3 separate regions of the Homo sapiens genome follow, and regions 1 and 3 are each linked to region 2. The links come from fine-mapping of genetic effects on gene expression. A gene starts in region 2. Each other region holds a variant in brackets. All regions are shown on one strand. Distances are between the middles of the regions.

Region 1 (4,241 bases), 89 kb after region 2:
GCATGTACGTTTAAAATGTCGTTAGAGATGAGGAAATTGCCCTCCAAAGTGGCTCACCATTTTATAGCAGTATGGGGTGGGAGTCCTCAGAGGGACCTGGTCACTGAGAGAAATGAGAGTATTATAGGGGGTATGGGGACGGAGACGGAGCATAGAACCCAGCCAGGTCTGTAAGGGGCAGCTTTTGCTGGAAAAGACACTTGTAAATGACACATTCTTGTAAACTTTGCTTATCATCAAAATCAAAAAACATTTTACATGCAAGGGGGTGATTTTAGAGCTTTTTGAGAAAATAAATATGCTTTGGGTTGCAAAAATTCCCTAGAAGGCCCAAAAATATCCTATTTAAGTAAAACGCCATAAAAGTGATCAGTATGAATTGTAGGCAGGAGAGGTGACAAACTGGTGGCCCACTAGCTGAGGCCAGCTCATAGGGGGGTTTGATACACACAGTCTTAGAAATTTGGAAGAGCTGCCAACAGATGCTCTCATGAGCTCTCTTTCTCACTGAAATCCAGGGATGCCCCCAACAAGAGGTATCCAGAGGCCAACTCTGGGTTGAGATTGTTTGGCTGAGGGAAGGAGCAGGCAGAGGAAGTATTTTAAAGCCCTGGTTCTCAGTGTACAGTCCTTAGACCAGCAGCACCGGGGGAACACGTCAGGAATGCAGATTCTTGGATCCCACCCCAGACTTGCTGAATCAGCAATTCTGGGTGAGGTGGGGCCAGCCATGTGGGCTTTAACCAGCCCTCCAAGTGCTTTTCTGCACTCTCACATTGGAGAAGGAGTGTTCTAGGTACACCACCCCAGCCCATCCCTGATCAAACCACAGTGTGGCCCTTGAATGTCACTAACCCTGGGAATGTTCTCTCCACCTCTCTCTCGATCTGGTTCTCTTCTTACCTGCTTGTCTCTGTTTCTGCCTGTGCATGTGTCTTTCTGACTGCCTTTCTCTCTCTGTCTCTCTAACTCTCTCTTCTCACTTGTCCCTGTTGTTCTCTGCCACTCTGCCAATCTCTATGGATGTCTTTGTCTCTCTGTCTCTACGTCTTTGTGTCCCTCTTTCCAACTGCCTCTCTCTCTCTCTCTCCCTCTTGCTGTGGTCGCTCTGCGTTGGTCTCTCTCCGGGTCTCTCCCACCTTTTCCTGGCCCAGGCCATCCGCCTGAGAGTGCACCCCCTGTATCTGATGATTCCGGGCACAGTCGGCTGCTCCTTTGCCTTCATGCTCCCGGTCTCAACGCCCCCCAACTCCATCGCCTTCGCCTCTGGACACTTGCTGGTCAAAGACATGGTGAGTCTGGGCATTTCCCAGCAGAGGCCCCGGGATGTGGGTGGGCCGCAAGGGGGCGGGCAAGGCCTCTATGCAGGACTCCTGCACGCTGACCCCACTCCCCAGTCTCTGAATAGATCTTTCTGAGTGGGACCAGGAACATACATTTAGCAGAGACTCTGGGATGATTCCTGCACTTAGACAATCTCAGGAAACACTGCCTTAGTGACTACTTTCCAAAATTTGCTCCAGAGGCAAGGAACTTCCCCTTCCCTCTGGACCCCACTTCGTGCCCAGAATCTTCGGGGGAGAGAAGCAGCAGACACACCCTAGGACTCAGGGGTGGGCCTCAGTGCTCAGCCAGCTGGGAAGGAGACAGAAGCGGAGGACTGTAGCAGTGGGAGGACCCCACCAGCTTTCAGCAGGGCCCAGCCATTGGCAATATGTTCCCTCCCCCGGAAGGTCCCTGCTGAACCAGCTCCTCCCTTCCCGCTCCTGACTCCTGCGGCCTTTTCCCTCTCCACTGGCTTTGCAAATAACCCTTCCAAAGCTGTCAAAGCCAAGACGGGCGACCTGCTTAACCAATCGCGATGCAGGCCCTCCAGGCACAAGACCCCTGCAGGACACATGGGGAGAGAGAGCGAGAGTGAGAGCGAGGCAGAAAGGGAGACACAGAGCAAACAGAGAAGAGACGAGACAGAGACTCATT[G/A]ATTTGTTCGTTCATTACAGCACTATTTACTGAGTGCATTCTATGTTCCAGCCACTGGGGGCACTGCAGAGTGGGAGAGACACCGATCCGCCTCCTAGGAGGCTGCTTTCTATTGGTGGAGACAGACGTGAACAAGTTCAGCAGATTTTCCTAAATTATGTAAAATTTCAATATTGCTAGGTGCTCAGAAGGAAATAAAACATGAGGAAGTGTAAGAGGACGGGGGAGAGGGGTGGCAGGGAAGCCCTCTCCAGGAAGGTGACATGGGAGCTGATGATCATGGGAAGCCGCCAGCCTCACAGAGAAAAAGGGGAAGAGCAGTCCCAATGGAGGGCACAGCAGGTACAAAGGCCTGGAAGAGAGGAATAGCAGCGAGTGCTCCAGAAATTCAGGGCCAGGAGGCTGGGGTGGCTGCAGTGGAGTTGGAGAAGGATGAGGTTGGAGACACGAGGTCAGGGAACAGCGGGGACAGGACAGACTTGGTATCTTATTCAAACCACAGTGGGGACCCTCGGTAAGCAGGGCAATGATGTGATTTCACTTCTGTCTGTAGAAGATCATTTTGGCTGCTGGCTGGAGTGAATCGTTAGGGTGGGAGGGACAAGTGTGGAAGCAGGGAGGCTACTTAGAGAAAAAGACTGAGAGGGCAGCAATGCAAACAGCATAGATTTGGAGAATAAAGACAGCCAGAGAAATGGAGAGTCCCCAAGAGGTAGAGACTTGCAAGAGATGTGGAGGGGTACAAGGGGCACCCCCGGTCAGCCAGTCCCGGGCAGGGATGGCCCACCTGCAGGTTCGCTCCTGAGAGTAATGAGTTAGGTGTTAATGAAGTAGCTAACATGGGACCAGCAGGAATTTTGAGCCCTGGCAAAGGGAGACCCAATCCTCCCCCAGTTTCCCCAACATGTCGGCCCGACTCCCTCTAATCCTCCGAAGGTGCCAGGGCTTCCACCTCTGTGCCCTTAGAAGAGAGGCAGGACAGCACACGCAGTATGTCCCCCACCCGTCCGTGGTAATATTTATTTAACACCTTTACTAAATCAGCTTGACATTAAAAAAAAAAAACAAAAAAAAACTTGAATAAGAATATTCCAGAAGAAATGTTTCCAGTGCATCCATCAATGGAAAACCGGTATTATTAATATATGCCATGGCCAGTAAACCTAAAAATAAATGCAAAGCGGCAAAAACAAAAGAATTAAGCTCTCCCTGATAGCAGCTGCCTGGAGAAGGTTCTGGGCCTCTCCTTGTTAAAAGGGCAACTGACAGGAGCAGAGAAGTGCTGAAGCCATGGTGGCCCCTGTGAACCCCAAAAATCTGAGACAGGTCTCAGTAAATTTAGGAAGTTTATTTTGCCTAAGTTAAGGACATACGCCTGTGACACAGCTTCAGGAGGTCCTGACGACATGCACCCAAGGTGGGTGGAGCACAGCTTGATTTTATACATTTTAGGGAGGCATGAGACATCAATCAACATATGTAAGATGAACATTGGTTTGGTCCGGAAAGGCGGGACAACTCAAAGAGGGCAGGGGGCTACCAGGTCATAGGTATATAAGAGACAAATGGTTGCATTATTTTGAGTCTCTGATGAGCCTTTCCAAAGAAGGCAATCAGATATGCATTCAACTCAGTGAGCAGAGGGATGACTGAATAGAATGGGAGACAGGTTGGCCCTAAGTAGTTCCCAGTTTGACTTTTCTCTTTAGCTTAGTAATTTGGGGGCCCCAAGATTTATTTTCCTATCACACCCCTAAGAGAGACTTTCTCTGGGAGGAATAGACAGAAAGAGAATTAGAAAGGAAGTAACTGTCTCACCATGTGATTCAGCCTGGGCTATGTGAAGGCGGGGCAGCCAGAAGACCCAGGTGGGAAAACAAGGATTTTCAGCCCAAGGTGGACTGAATGGTCCAAGAGGCCAGCCAGGGTAGGGAGCAGATGGGCACATTCTCCACCGACAGAAGAAAAATGCTTCCCAATGGACAAGGGTAGTCTTGACTAGGACTACCTGACTGGACTGGACCTGAAGTGTGTGTGTGTACCTATGTGTACATATGTGTGTTCCTACATGCATGCGTGTGTGTGTGCATGCGTGTGTGTATATGTGTGTGGGATGGGGGTGTTTAGTGATCAGACAAGATTATTTTCAAGTTAGGTGACCTTGGACAAGTCAACTTCTCTAGGTCTCATTTTTCTCTTCTATAAAATGGGGATTAATAAGAATGACCTTTGTAAGGTTGCTTTCTGGGTTAAACAGCATA
Region 2 (4,241 bases):
GTATATACCCAGAACTGAAAGCAGGGACTCAGACAGATACTCTTTGTACACCTATGTTTATAGCTGCATTACTCACAATAGCCAAACGGTAGAAACAACCCAATGTCTATCAACAAATGAATGGATAAACACGATATAGTATATCCATACAATGGAATATTATTCAGCCTTAAAAAGGAATTATGACACATGCTACAACATGGGTGAGCCTTAAGGACACAAAGCTAATCACAAAAGGATAAATATTCCATGATACCGCTTGTATGAGCTATCCAGATTAATCAAATTTATAGAGACAGAAAGCAGAATGATGGTTTCCAGAGGCTGTGGGAGGAGAGAATGAAGTTATTTTGTAATGAATACAGTGTTTCAAAACTGTAAAACTTCTGACAAGCTTGTCCAACCTGCCTTATTTTGTTGTTGTTCTTTTTTTGTTTGTTTGTTTGTTTTAAGCTTTTAGCAGCCTGAAGCCATGGTTTTTAGTTTCTGTCTCTAGTGATGAGTGGAAAAGAGGGATGAGGAAGGGGCTTTACTGGCCCAACCAGAAACAGAAACTAAGAACCCATGACTGTATTCTCTTCCTTGGACACTTCTGTGAGAACAAAGCAAACTAAACATACGAGAAACTCTTTGGGGTCTAAGGCTATGCAGAGAGCTTAACCCGATCATCCAAAGGAAAAATTTGATAAATTTAACTACATCAAAATTAGAAATGTTTGCTTGGTGATATATAGTTAAGAGGCTGAAAAGACAAGCTACAGACGGGGAGAAATATTTGCAAACAGCGTAACTGGCAAAGAACTGACATCTAGAATTTGCAAAGAACTTTCAAAACTCAACTGTAAAAAACCAAATAATACAAGTAGAAAACAGGCAAATGACAGGAAAAGATAGTTCACCAAAGAGGATATAGAGATGGCAAATTAGCATGTGAAAAGATGTTAAACATCACTAGCCATTAGGGAAATAGAAATTAAAACCACAATGAGCTATTACTATGTCCCTGTCAGAATGGTTAAAATAAAATAAACAGTGACAACACCAAATGTTGGCAAAGATGTGGAGAAACTGGATGATTCATACATTGTTGATGGAAGTGCAAAATAGTACAATCACTTTGGAAGACAGGTTGACAGTGTCTTAAAAAGCTAAGCATTGCAAATACTGGGCAACCCAACAGTTGCACTCCTGTATGGTTACCTGAGAATAATCAGAAGTGAATAGAAGTGACTCACCCCCCTTAAAAAAAAATAAGAATAACGGCCGGGCGTGGTGACGCACACCTGTAATCCCAGAACTTTGGGAGGCCCGAGATGGGCGGATCATGAGGCCAGGAGTTCGAGACCAGCCTGGCCAAAATGGTGAAACCCCATCTCTACTAAAAATACAAAAAAAAAAAAAAAAAAAATTAGCCAGATATGGTGGCACACGCCTGTAATCCCAGCTACTCAGAAGAATTGCTTGAACCCGGGAGGCAGAGGTTGCAGTGATCCGAGATCGCTCCACTGCTCCCCAGCCCAGCCTGGGTTACAGAGTGAGACTACATCTCAAAAAAAAGAAAAAAAAACCCAAAAATAAGAATAACTCATCAGCAGCAATAACTCTCATTGAGCACCTGCTCTGCCAGACACTGCGCTAATCACATTACATGTGTTATCTCATTTAAACTTCCTAACAACCTTCTTGTCTGGTGTAGACTATTTTTAAAAATTTAACTTTTAAGTTCAGGGGTACATGTGCAGATTTGTTGTATAGGTAAACTTGTGTCATGGGGATTTGTTGCACAGATTATTTCGTCATCCAGGTATTAAGCCTAGTGCCCATTAGTTATTTTTCCTGATCCTCTGTCTCCTCCCACCCTCCAGCCTCCCATAGGCTTCAGTGTCAGTTGTTCCCCTCTATGTGTCCATGTGTTCTCATCATTTAGCTCCCGCTTATAAGTGAAAACATGCGGCATTTGGTTTTCTGTTCCTGTGTTAGTTTGCTAAGGATAATGGCCTCCAGCTCCATCCATGTTCCCGCAAAAAACATGATGTCCTTCTTTTTTGTGACTGCATAGTATTCCATGGTGTAGACTATTATTATCACCACTCCACTTTCAGGCTCAGAGGCTGTTGTTGAAGGCCACGCAGTGAGTAAGTGGCCGTGCCAGGATTTGAACCCGGGTAATAGGAGTACGCGCCTTAATCCTCGCCTTGTCATCCTCAGCCATCTCACAGGCGAGTAAACAGAGGCGAGGAGAGGATAAGCCAGCTGCCCCAGGCCACATTGCTGGGAAGCCAAGAGGCAAGGCCACACTGCCCTGCGGCTGGGGTCCCGTTTGCTAATTCTAGTGCCTAACTTTCTCCAACGTTCCCGGGCCTCTTTCACCCGGTCCCAGGGGCGCAGGCACCACCCTTTTCCTCCAGGAGGAGCAGGGAGAGGGCGGGTTCCCCAGCGCAGTCCCCTCCCCGACCCTCCCCCAGGCTTTAAGCCGGCGCCGGGGCCAGGCGGGGCAGTCCCGGGCCGGCCCGTACCGCCAGGCGATCGCGCTGATGGCGGCGCTGGCAGCAGCGGCCAAGAAGGTGTGGAGCGCGCGGCGGCTGCTGGTGCTGCTGTTCACGCCGCTCGCGCTGCTGCCGGTGGTCTTCGCCCTCCCGCCCAAGGTAACGCCTCCTCCGCCTGTGCGCCCCCGGTCAACCACAGGCGGGATCCTCTTCTCCCAAGCCTCCAAGTTGGGAGACCGCTGAGGTCCCAGTGTAGACAGGCTCCACCAGACCCCCTCGCCTTCCCTCCCTTGCACCTGCCGCGGACCGCTGTGAACGCTCCTAACGCCTCTTCCCTCTTCCCAGCTGCTCCTTAGAGCTTGAGTCCCACCCTGCCTTCTGGATCTCACTTCCATGGGAATAATTTCGTTTCGTTTCAGTGACAGGTTCTCGCCGGTCACCCAGGCTGGAGTGCAGTGATGTGATCATAGCTCACTGCAGCCTCCAACTCCTGGACTTAAGCGATCCTCCTTCCGCAGCCTCCCTAGTGGCTAGAACTACAGGTGCATGCCCAGCTAATTTTTTTTTAATAGAGATAGGGTCTCACTATGTTGTCCAGGCTGGTCTGGAACTCCTGGACTCAAGCAATTCTCCCACCTTGGTCTCCCATATACTGGGATTACAGACGTGAACCACTGTGCCTAGCAGAATTCTTTCTTTCCTGAGCTCTAATTCTGTGCTTGGTGCTGTATTGCACATTTCACGCGACAGTCACAATGAACACTTACTGGGTGCCAAGCTGTGTGACATGGTGCAAGTCACTTAACCTCTCTGAACTTCAGTTTACTCATGTGTAAAAATGGGAGAAATGATAGTGCCCACCCATAGGGCAGCGGTGAATATCAATGAGGCAATATATGTAAATCTCTTATAACTAAACCTTGTACAGAATAAATGCCCAATAAGCAGTGACTGGTCTTTTTCTGCACCAGGTCCTTACGTGATGAGGACGGTAAGATTCATGAGTGCTTACTACGGGTGAGGATTTGCCTTTTGTGTATCACTTTATTTAATCATTTCAACGCGTCTCAGAGGGGAAAGATTATTTGACCCATTTTCCAGAGGAGAAAACCAAGGCTCGGGGAGAGAAAGTGACTTGCTCAGAGTCACACAGCAAGTGACTATGTCGGTATTCAGTCCCCGGCTTGTCAGAATCCAGAACCCTAGCTGTTTTCAGTCTCCCCAAGGAAGTAACCCCTGTAAGATCAAAGGCCGCAGGTGGAGTTCAGGAGTCATAACTGAAATCAACACTAGTGGGGGCTGGAAGGAGATGGTACCACAGGTCCCTTTTGGGTTCTTCACCTGTGCCCTGCCCAGCCCAGCCAGGGCATCATGAGAGGGCACTGGGCTTGTAAGATAAGGCTTCTACCTCCAGGAAGTTGCTTCACCATCTCTCAGTGAGGTATTAAATGTTCACAAAAATAAAAGTAAAGAGGAGGTATAATTTAGTGGTGCATTACCCAGCACCGATCAGCTGAGACCAGGGAGCTTCTCCTGGAAGAAGGAGCCCTCCTTGGGCACATGGAGTAAGAAGGTGACACCAGTGGTTCCAAGGAGACCCAGGGCTAACACACAGCAAGTTCATTAGTGTGGAATTATCTAAGCTATTAGACTTTCTCGACGTGGAAGAGAAAAACACAATAAATGATGGAAGAAGGATGAGGTCACCTTTGCAAAACTCAGCCCACCCCAGGCCACTTTCTGACCTGTGGATCT
Region 3 (4,241 bases), 43 kb after region 2:
TAAGAGGAGGGGAAAAGAGGGAGGAAGCTGAGAAGGCCATGAGGGAAAGATAGTGGAGTGTCTTGGTGCCCCGGCAACTTTATTCTGAAATGGGTATCATTGAGGATTTGAGGGCAAGAAAGAGAAAACGTCAGGCTTGGGATGTCTTTATAACCTGGGTACCTATGGACAGTTCACTTAAACACACTGAACCACAGTTTTCTTAGATCTAAAATAAACCTGGTGAGTGGATTTGGTTTCTGCTTTGAGTCTCAAGTTTCCATCTGTAAAATGGATGGATTGTATTCCTCAGGGATGGCAAACTGGGACCAGAGGATCTCCTGGGCCCTGGGTTCTGGATTTGCCTCTAATGCCATCTGCTCTGCAGGCTCATCCTGGGGATGATGGTGACCACCTCGTTCTTGTCCATGTGGCTGAGCAACACCGCCTCCACTGCCATGATGCTTCCCATTGCCAATGCCATCCTGAAAAGTCTCTTTGGCCAGAAGGAGGTTCGAAAGGACCCCAGCCAGGAGAGTGAAGAGAACACAGGTGAGGCTGTGCTAAGGGATTGGGGCCAAATCCACCAGGATTTGGAAGTGGGAATGGGATGTCCAAAGGATGTTAGGGAAGGCCAAGGGCATGCACACTTATTGAGCACCTACTATGCGTCAGGTGTTTTAGTTATGACAATGACTGATAATTAGATAAGAAATCATGGTACCTTGGTTGTTTAAAATTTGCATTTATTAAGCACATACTGTATACTGAGCAGTGAGTTGAACTCTTTACATACATTATCTTCCTTAACTCTCAAAACAGCTCTATGAAGTAAGTACTATAATTAAACCTTGTTTTACAGCATTCAAAGAGATGCTCAGCATCACCAGTACTCAGAGAAATGCAAATTGAAACAATAACATTTTAATCAATGAGACAGGCAGAAATAAGGAAGCTGATGAATCCCCATGTTGACAGGAATAGGGGCCACAGGAACTTTCGTGTACTGCTAGAAAGAGTGTGGACTGGGTTAGAGTTTCTTAAGGATCTTGTGCAAGGATTTAATCACATTAAATGTGTTTATACTCTGTAACCCAGCAGTTTTGCTCCCAGACACCAAAGGAATTCTCCTATAGGTCCAGGAGGGAACGCACATAGTGATATTCACTGTAGCGCTCTCTGTGGTGTGGGAAGTTGGTGGCTACATGCACTTTATTGCTAGTACAGGCAAAGGCAAATATGGTGGATACATGCCATTGAGCATTATGCTCCTTTTAAAAGAGAGAAGAATTAGTGAACCATGTACTTCTATAAATGGATCTCATAGAGCAGTTATGATTGGAGGTAAAAACCAGAATGAGATCTAGAATACAACCTCAATATGTAAGCTGAAAATACACATGAACGACAAAAGATTTTGTAAGCAATGTATGATGAAAAGCTACACATTAAACATATCAGAATGGTTGCTATGGAAAGGGTGAGAGTGGGAAATGGGGAGAGAAAGGACTAAAAAGACCCAATCAATTATAGGAAAGAGAGGCTTTGTGAAGTAAATAGTGATAACGTATTATGAACGGAGGGATTTGATTCCCTCAATCCTCTGAAATTATGTTCTTAATAAAACAAAACATACACAGCCATTGTATTTTTAGGTGACTACATACAGTCTCCAAGAGGGAAATGATTTTCCCAAATTACACAGTGAAGTTAAAGAAGTCCAGGATCAATTCAGAGGCACAATGACGTCATGATTTTTCATTGGCAACTCTGGTTCCCCTGGTCTTATGGTTGCAAAGTGGCTGCCACATCATGTCACTTTAAAATGTCTTACTTTTAATTTACATAACTGTATTTTAAAAGGAAGATTTGAATTGATACATATGTGGGCAGAAATGGCTAGTTTAACCCCGGCATTGATTCTTCCTTTGTTCTTTTAGGAATAGAACCCAATACTTTCCTCTCTGAGGAAAGGCTGAAACTTCAAGCTCCCCTTGTGATAAGACTTGGTCAGATAACTGAGTCTGGTCAATGGAATATGAGTGGAAATGATGTGTGCAACTTCCGGGTTCTGTCCTTCCTGCCGGGTGGAATGTGAATATGATGGCACCTGGGACCCAAAGACAGGAGCCACATCTTGAGAGATAGATGGCAGATCTGCCCCTGTGGCTTTGGATCATTTACCTCAGTGAACACAACAAGCATTATCCATGAAACCATAGGTTTTGTGTGCTAGTTCTAGTTTTTAAAATATGAATTAAATTAAATACGTATCTGTTAAAACTTAAATGTTGATCCGTGTACCATCTAAGTTAATCTCACTGACAGTCACATGAGTATTTCCCCGTCATACACTAAGGGGTCCTGCTTATTTTATTTTCACAGCAACCCTGAACACTAGAAATGATTATATGTACTTTACAGATGAAGTTTGGAGAGGTGAGATGATGTGTTGAGGATCATAGCATTGGCAAAGTGGCAGAGTCAGCTCTATGCAACGGCAGAGTCTTCCACGAGGAAGTGAAGAGAAGCTTTATAGCATGGATTAACAAACTTTGTCTATAAATGACCAAATAGTAAATACTGCAGGCTTTGTGGGCCACTCTGTTGCAACTACTCAACGCTGCCCTTGCAGTGAGAAAGCAGCCACAGATAAAACAAACAAGC[A/C]GGCGTGGCAATGTGACAAAAAAATTGTATTTATGGGTGCTGAAATTAAAATTTCATATAATTTTTGTATCAGGAAATATTCTTCCATAGATGTTTTTCAACCATTTGAAAATGTAGAAGCCATTCCTAGTTGGCAGGCCACACAAAAACAGGCGGTGGGCTGGATTGGGGCTGCATATTGTAGGTCACTGACCCCTGCTGTACAATATTGGCTTTCTTGATTTTCAAACTGTTTCCCTTAAGAGAACTGCCTGATGGTCACCCTGGGGTGGCAGCAAGCACCTGGGACTCTGCCCTTTTCCCCATTTCAACCCTAGTTAGACTCACTTTATTCATTTTGTACACTGGGCCTCTAAGCAATAATAACCAATGTTTACTGTGCACTTAGTTTATGCGCGGACTCTTAGGTGGACCTCATATCTGAATGAGACGGAGCAAGCATCGACCTCATTTACAGAAATGGAAATTGAGGAAGGAATTAAAAAGAGTCCTCCCACCCCCCGTTACGCAGTTTCCAAACTGTGGCTCTGGTATTTTGAATCCGGGCTGGCTGACTTCAGAGCCTACATTCTCAGGCTCCATTATTCTGCCTCCCACATGAGACTTTTTCCAAAGTGGTCAAGCAAATGATTGAAAGCCAAGTCCCTCATTGTGAGAATGAAAAATCTGAGACTCAGGAAGGGGAAGGGACTTGCCCAAGGCCACACACAGTGGTGGCCATGCATTGAAGTCCAGAGCCTTTTCCTATGCTGCAGGATGTCAAGAGGGAGGGGATCCTGGGGGTTGGGATAGATACCTACCTTTACAGGCCATGGGATCAGGGAGGAGCAGGAATTGGTTAATGATCAGCTTCTAAGACCTAAAACAAGGCTAATTCCAGTACAAAGAGAGCTATTCCCTTTCATCCAGTTCTGAGCTTTGACCAGGTGGCAGGAGGCGAGGACAGGGGTGGAGGGAGTAGAGATTCTGCCAGTGGGCTAGGAGAGGCACAAGGAAGTTCCTAGGAGCTATAGGTTCATGAAGGACATCTGTAGCACCAGCAGCAACCATAATCATCATGTGAGCTGAGCTCCCATTTTCTGAGTAACCACCACATGCAGATACCATGCTAATTTTTTTATACTCATTAGCTCATCTGATCTTCATAATTGTACTAGGAGGTAATGATGCCCATTTTATAGATGAGGAAACTGAGGCTCAGAGAAGCAAAATGATTTGCCCAAAGTAACACGATGATTTGCTGAGCTCTGTCAGAATCCAGAATCTGTGCTTATAAGCACCTTGCCATGGTGCCTGGTACAGAGGAGGCAGAACCTAGGGCAGGGTGGGGCTATCTGGATAAGACTCCAGAGGTCCTCAGACTTGGAGGGCAGCGCTGTTGCCTTTCTCCAGTTCCTTTGCTCAGTTCTGTGCCCTGCACTTCCTGGGGGACCCAGGGGCCATGTGAGTGATGGCTTCGCCAATGTCCCCCTGCATGCACGCTCTCATTAGGTCCTCCACCACAGCCCTGTGGGGAGGCACTATTAGCATGCCTGTTTTACAGATGAGGAAACTGAAGCTCACAGCCATGATAGGCCCAATGTTCCTTGGCCAGT

Which allele goes with the higher level. Alleles are on the strand shown, and positions count from the first base shown. SD is a standard deviation of normalised expression in the study named. Not every link is listed here.
In carriers of allele G in region 1, the expression in prefrontal cortex of the gene that starts at base 2,497 in region 2 tends to be higher than with A alone (small effect, 0.33 SD a copy in CommonMind).

The links. PIP is the estimated chance that this variant, and not a neighbour inherited with it, causes the effect. A credible set is the group of variants that fine-mapping cannot tell apart.
Region 1: its variant is the best candidate, but not a certain one, in a credible set for the expression of SLC13A3 in prefrontal cortex (CommonMind, PIP 0.56).
Region 3: its variant is the best candidate, but not a certain one, in a credible set for the expression of SLC13A3 in nasal epithelium (TOPMed, PIP 0.63).

Annotation. Positions count from the first base shown.
Region 1 is chr20:46,560,465-46,564,705 of GRCh38, reverse strand. SLC13A3 (solute carrier family 13 member 3) reads left to right here. Exons shown (of 13, transcript NM_022829.6): 12 at 1,155-1,292. Among named protein-coding and RNA genes, the nearest start is that of OCSTAMP, 12 kb to the right of the region's middle. The variant G/A (reference allele first, on the strand shown) is at 1,981.
Region 2 is chr20:46,649,715-46,653,955 of GRCh38, reverse strand. SLC13A3 (solute carrier family 13 member 3) reads left to right here and starts at 2,497. Exons shown (of 13, transcript NM_022829.6): 1 at 2,497-2,645. The coding sequence starts at 2,535.
Region 3 is chr20:46,606,736-46,610,976 of GRCh38, reverse strand. SLC13A3 (solute carrier family 13 member 3) reads left to right here. Exons shown (of 13, transcript NM_022829.6): 3 at 368-531. Among named protein-coding and RNA genes, the nearest start is that of SLC13A3, 43 kb to the left of the region's middle. The variant A/C (reference allele first, on the strand shown) is at 2,647.